2 separate regions of the Homo sapiens genome follow, and region 2 is linked to region 1. Evidence: fine-mapped expression QTL. A gene starts in region 1. The other region holds a variant in brackets. All regions are shown on one strand. Distances are from middle to middle.

What was found.
Region 2: its variant is fine-mapped to the expression of PLD2 in whole blood (TOPMed, PIP above 0.99).

The regions. Positions count from the first base shown.
Region 1 is chr17:4,805,578-4,808,483 of GRCh38, reverse strand. It overlaps PLD2 (phospholipase D2), which reads right to left and starts at 1,332. Exons shown (of 25, transcript NM_002663.5): 1 at 1,259-1,332; 2 at 603-712; 3 at 370-500; 4 at 68-210. The coding sequence starts at 711. It also overlaps a transcript of C17orf114 not described here. RefSeq lists an enhancer at 1-596 and a silencer at 992-1,781.
Region 2 is chr17:4,857,499-4,860,404 of GRCh38, reverse strand. The region is part of intron 1 of MINK1 (misshapen like kinase 1); the gene reads right to left. Among named protein-coding and RNA genes, the nearest start is that of MINK1, 26 kb to the right of the region's middle. RefSeq lists a silencer at 257-551. The variant G/A (reference allele first, on the strand shown) is at 1,466.

The DNA.
Region 1 (2,906 bases):
GTGAGACAGACAGAAAGGAGGGTGGGGAGCACCTGCCCTCTACAGGAAGCAGTCCGGTCGCCCTCACCGAGCCAGAGGGAGCAGACTCATCAAGACTTTGTGTCTCAGGAGGTCCCGATGCAGCTCCTGAAAATGACGGTATTTCTTCTTGGTTGTCCAGGAAAAGTCGCCGTGAGTCAAGCGGACAGAATACAGAGTGCAGGTTCCCACCTAGGGGTATGAGGAACTGAATGGATGTCCCCTGCGTGGGTCCCCGCCTCCCCACTCTGGCCAGCCCTCCTTTTGCCCCTTCCCTGGGGCCAGCCCAGCCACCTTGGATCCATTCCGGGCCGCCCTCCCTTTCCCCCTCCCTGGGGCCAGTCTGGCCACCTTGGATCCGCTGGTATATCTTTCGGTGCCCACCACCTGGGCTGTGACAGGGACCCCAGGTGCGAACACCAAGGGGTGCACTTTCAGAGACTGAAGCTCATAGATGGCCAGAAACGGGTGCATCCGGTCGGCTGGGAGGAAAGAAAGTCGAGGAGTGTAGACCACAACAGGCCCCAGCCCCCTGGCTCCCGAACGCCTCTCCTCCCTGAGGGCCATCCATCTTCCCTGTGTACCTGGGTCCTCTCCCTCCTTCAGGGTGTCCACCTCATCGGACTCCATCTGGAGCTGGCTGGAGTCCAGTTCGTCCCCAGTGGGGAAGAGGCTCTCAGGGGTCGCCGTCATCCTAGGAACATTGGGAAGCCTCAGGGAGGCGAGCTGTCCTGCAGAACCCGCCCCCCATCCTAACTCCCGCAGGTCCTCCATCTCTTCCAGATCCTCCTCTTCCCCCACGGCCTCCTGACCGCCCGCGGATGACGCCTGACCAGTTTGCAACGCCCCACCGACCCCTTCGAGCCCCCATCCCCTACCTTAGTCCTTCATCCACAATCCCAGTCCCGCCCCCCGCCCCCCGCCCCGTCCCGTAACCAGAGCCCCGGGGAACACCCAGCCAGGCCCGGAAGGCTCCGACCTGGGGCGGCGCAGCAGCTGCGCGGGGAAGCGGCCCTGGGTGGTCCGGAGAGCGCGCGGCTACGGGGCTCACGCCAGGCCAGGCGGGCCGGGGGCAGGGGTCCAGGCGGGAATGAGGAAGTTACGCGATCCCAGCCGGGGGTAGAAATCCCGAAATCTGAGCGTGCGACTGAGTCTGGAGGCCCCGCAGCCCGAGCCCGTTCCGTCCCCGCCCGATTTCCGAGACCCGGGACCCCCGCGCGCCCCTTCCCGGCCCCCTCACCCTGGCAGACGGAGCCAGCGCCCGCGGGGGTTCCGGAGCCAAGAGAGCAGACCGGAGCTGCAGCCGGAGCCCACGCCCCGGCCGAGGCGGGGCCGGCCGAGGCGGGGCCGGGGCTCAGGGCCTGCCCTCGGGGGCGGGGCGGCCCCCGGCCTCACCTCCGCGGGATTCTCGTCTGTCCTGTCCCGCCCCCGCTGCCCTCGGCCCGCCCCGCCGCCCAGTGCGCCACCGAGAGCCCCGGGCAGGGGGCCGCCCTGTGCCCTGCAGGGCCGCGGGGCCGCGTAGCTCTCTCGGTGCGGCGGGTAAGTGCTGCCCGGCGTCGGGGCGTCCCGCGCCGTCGGTCCCAGCGTGCCCGGCCGCTGCCTCCCGGGGCACCCCGCGCTGCGCGCATCCCTCGGGCTCGGCGCCCGCCCCGGGCCCCTCCAGCCGCGGGCGCTGCCTCGGCGCCCGGGGGACGCGCCTCCGCTGCGGGAGCTGCCGGTAGGTGCCCCGCTCCCGGACCCGCTGCGAGCCACATTTGGCCTAGCCCAGATAGCGTTTGTACCTGGAAGGAATGAGGGCGTAAAAGGCCTGAGGGGTGGTGGCTACAAACCCATTAGTGTATGAAAGCGGGCATTCTTTCATTCATTCACCAAACATTTATTGCGCGCTTACTCCGTGCCAGAAATTGAGAGTATGGTAGTAAATAAGATGGTTAGAGAGCCTGCTCAGCTGGAATTGGCAGTCTAGGGGGAAATAAAATTTTTTCGGGTATTAAAATACAAGATATTTCAATCTTTTTTAAAAAGCAGATTTATTTTTCTCTTTTGATATACATGTGGGTTTCTAGTTTTGCCCATTGTTTTAGCTCCTGTAAACATTCCTGTAAGTTTGCGTGGATAGTTTTCCTTTATCTTGGGTAACTAGGGAGTGGAGTTGTTCGATCATATCAGTGTGTGTTTAACTTATAAGAAACTGCCAAACGATTTTTTTCTAAATGGTTTTTCCATTCTAGATTTCCAAAATCAGTGTATGGTGGTTCCAGTTATTCCATGGCATGGCCAACGTTGGATATTGTCAGTCTTTAGCGTTGGCCATTTAATGGGTGTTGTGGGCACATCATTGCAATTTGATTTGCATTTGTCTGGAGATCAATGATATTGACCATGTTTCATGTGCTGATTGGCCATTTGTATGTCTTCTTTTATAAAGTGCCTATTCAGTCTTTTGCTATTTTTTATTTATTTTTATTTTTATTTTTATGAGACGGAGTCTCGCTCTTTTTTTTTCTTTTTTTGAGATGGAGTCTTGCTGTGTTGCCCAGGCTGGAGTGCAGTGGCGCGATCTCGGCTCACTGCAAGCTCCGCCTCCCAGGTTCACGCCATTCTCCTGCCTCAGCCTCCTGAGTAGCTGGGACTACAGGCGTCCGCCACCACGCCCAGCTAATTTTTTTTGTATTTTTAGTAGAAACGGGGTCTCACCGTGTTATCCAGGATGGTCTCGATCTCTTGACCTTGTGATCCGCCCTCCTCGGCCTTCCAAAGTACTGGGATTACAGGCGTGAGCCACCGCGCCCGGCCAGAGTCTCGCTCTTGTTGCCCATGCTGGACTGCAGTGGCGTGATCTCGGCTCACTGCAACCTCCCCCTTCCAGGTTCAAGGGATTTCCGGCT
Region 2 (2,906 bases), 52 kb before region 1:
GAAACTCAGAGCCTAGGAAGCGTGAGCCAAGGCTGTGGGGCCAGGAAAAGGAGAGAAGGTGAAACCCCCGTCAGTCCCTCACAATCAGCACGTGGAAATCTAGAAATGCAGGAGAGGCCTGGACTCATGGTGGAATCCAGAATGAAAGAGGTGGACGACTGAATGAGCAGAAGGAGGCAAGCACCAGAGGCTTGGGGGTCACATTTCTTGGAAGTGGCCTGGAGCTGGCAGATGAGAACTCTGGCTACCCGTCCTCATTCCACTAACAGTAGCTCCTCTAACGACATGCCCCTTCCCTCTGTACCCCGCTCCGCATGCGGCAAGTAGTTCCCGGACGCGACCCTTCCCCCTGTACCCCGCTCCGCATGGGGCCAGTAGTTCCCGGACGCGCCCCTTCCCTCTGTACCCCGCTCCGCATGCGGCAAGTAGTTCCCGGACGCGCCCCTTCCCTCTGTACCCGGCTCCGCATGCGGAAAGTAGTTCCTACGGTGTTGGTTTTGCATGTAGATGAAACCCTTTGAGGGGTAAAGGTTTTTTTTTTAAGTACTTTAGCAAATGCAAACTGTTATTATCAATATTAGCCAGCATCTTTTTTTTTTTTTTTTTTTTTTTTTTTGAGATGGAGTTTCGCTCTTGTCACCCAGGCTGGAGTGCAATGGCAAAATCTAGGCTCACTGCAACCTCCGCCTCCCAAGTTCAAGCGATTCTCCTGCCTCAGCCTCCCAGGTAGCTGGGATTACAGGCGTGTGCAACCACACCCAGCTAATTTTTGTATTTTTAGTAGAGACAGGGTTTCACCATGTTGGCCAGGCTGGTCTCGAACTCCTGACCTCATGTGATCCATCCGCCTCAGCCTCCCAAAGTGCTGGGATTACGTAGCCAGTGTCTTTCTTAAGTGCCTGTCAAATAATGCTCCTGGTTTATAAGTGCCCCTGGCTCTACCTTCTGGGTGCTCAGACACCAACACAGAGAGAACAGAATTAACATCCTGAGAAGTTACATATGCTAAAATATAAAGAGTAAGATTGTGAGGAAACTGCAGGGGAAGCAGGTAGGTTAGGAAAAGGTATCCTCACTTTTCTGCTGACCGATGAGTCATAATTCTTGAATTTCGGTGCTGGAAAGGTCCATTAAGCATTCCAGGAGATTCTAGGGAGCTTCCAGAATGGTAGAAGAACTGGAACCATAAAGCCTGGGGAAGGGATGGAAGTCCTTGGGAAAGAAGCACTAAACAGCCCAGTGGAGACAAGGAAGGACTGGTCTCTCCTGTGCTTCGAGCCCAGCAATGATTATTCACTCAGATATGCCCCGGCAGGTCCTGCTGCTAGAGCCAGTGCTGTTCCCAGACCCAGGCAAGGTGCCATCCTACCCCTGACAGGAAACAGGGCAGGAGGTGGGGCTGCCCCGGGTGCCTGGTGTTGGGAGGGGCCGGGGGGAATCCCGGGTGTTGGGAGGACAAGGCAGA[G/A]TCAGCTAGCTGTGAGGCTAGGGGAGAAGACCTCTCTAGTCTGGGAGAGACCCCTCCTTTCCTAGCTCCTTGTACTTCCAAAAAGGCAGGCTTCCTGCTGTTACTAACCATACCAGGACTGACTATACAGCAGCCAGAAAGATTCTGAGAAACCTGTGATAGAGAAAAACAGATGCGGAAGCGGGAGAAGAGAATTTCATAGGACACTAGGGAAAGAGAATGGGAACTTGTGGTCTAAAGAGGGAACCAAGTCTGGCCAACATGGTGAAACCCCATCTCTATTACAAATACAAAAATTAGCTGGGCATGGTAGTGCATGCCTGTAATCCCAGCTACTCAGGAGGGTAAGGCATGAGAATCACTTGAGACTGGGAGGCGGAGGTTGCAGTGAGCCGAGACTGCACCACTGCACTCCAGCCTGGGCAACAGAGCAAGACCTCGTCTCAAAAAAAAAAAAAAATTAAATTTAAATTAAAAAAAAATAAACAGGGAACCAACAAGAGCTGGCAGAACAGAATAAAGTCTCAAGCCAAATAACTCCCTTGCCTTGGAAGAACAAGGCTGCCAGCGTCTTGGAGCCTCTGTTTATCGGGTACCAGTTCAAAGGACAGTGAGCCTGAGCTGGCCTGGGAGGCCCTCCCCCCTCCCAGATGAAAACAATAGGCCTGTTTTCCTGAGCTCTTCCTGTAATCCAGAAGGCCCACACAGAGAGGAAGAGGGGGGCAAAGGCAGTGGCTATACCCAGTGGGGGAGGGGATATTTAGCCTCCCATAAATTCATCAGCTCCCTTAAAGACACCCCAAAACACCAACAATCTAAGTGTTAAAATAGTGACTGCTATGCAAATGGAGCTTTAAAACCTATCCCTTAGCCCCAGTACCACCAGATTACTAACCCTAAACCCCATCTGTAGGAGATATTCTGAAGCCACCACAGGGGAAGGGATAAGGGCCTGAGAGACAAAGGACAGATGGGGTCTCCCCAACAATTTAAGTTAAGTTCCACAAGGATACAGTACTGGCAGAGATTTGGAAGTAGGGGCAAGTATTCTGACAGAAGGGTGGTGTCTTAGGCACCCTTCAATTAGGAGTAGCTAAAGGCTGTGTGTGTGTCTGTGTGTGTGCATAAGAAAAGAAATAGGAGGGTGTGTGTGTGGTAAGAAAGAGCATCTTGGCTGGGCGCGGTGGCTCACCCCTATAATCGCAGCACTTTGGGATGCCAAGGCTGGCGGATTGCCTGAGCTCAGGAGTTTGAGACCATACGGGGCAACATGGTGAAACCCCATCTCTACTAAAAATACAAAAAATTAGCTGGGCATGGTGGTGCGTGCCTATAGTTCCAGCTACTCGGGAGGCTGAGGCATGAGAATGGCTTGAGCCCTGGAGGCAGAGGTTGAAGTGAGCTGAGATCGCACCATTGCATTCCAGCTTGGGCTACAGAG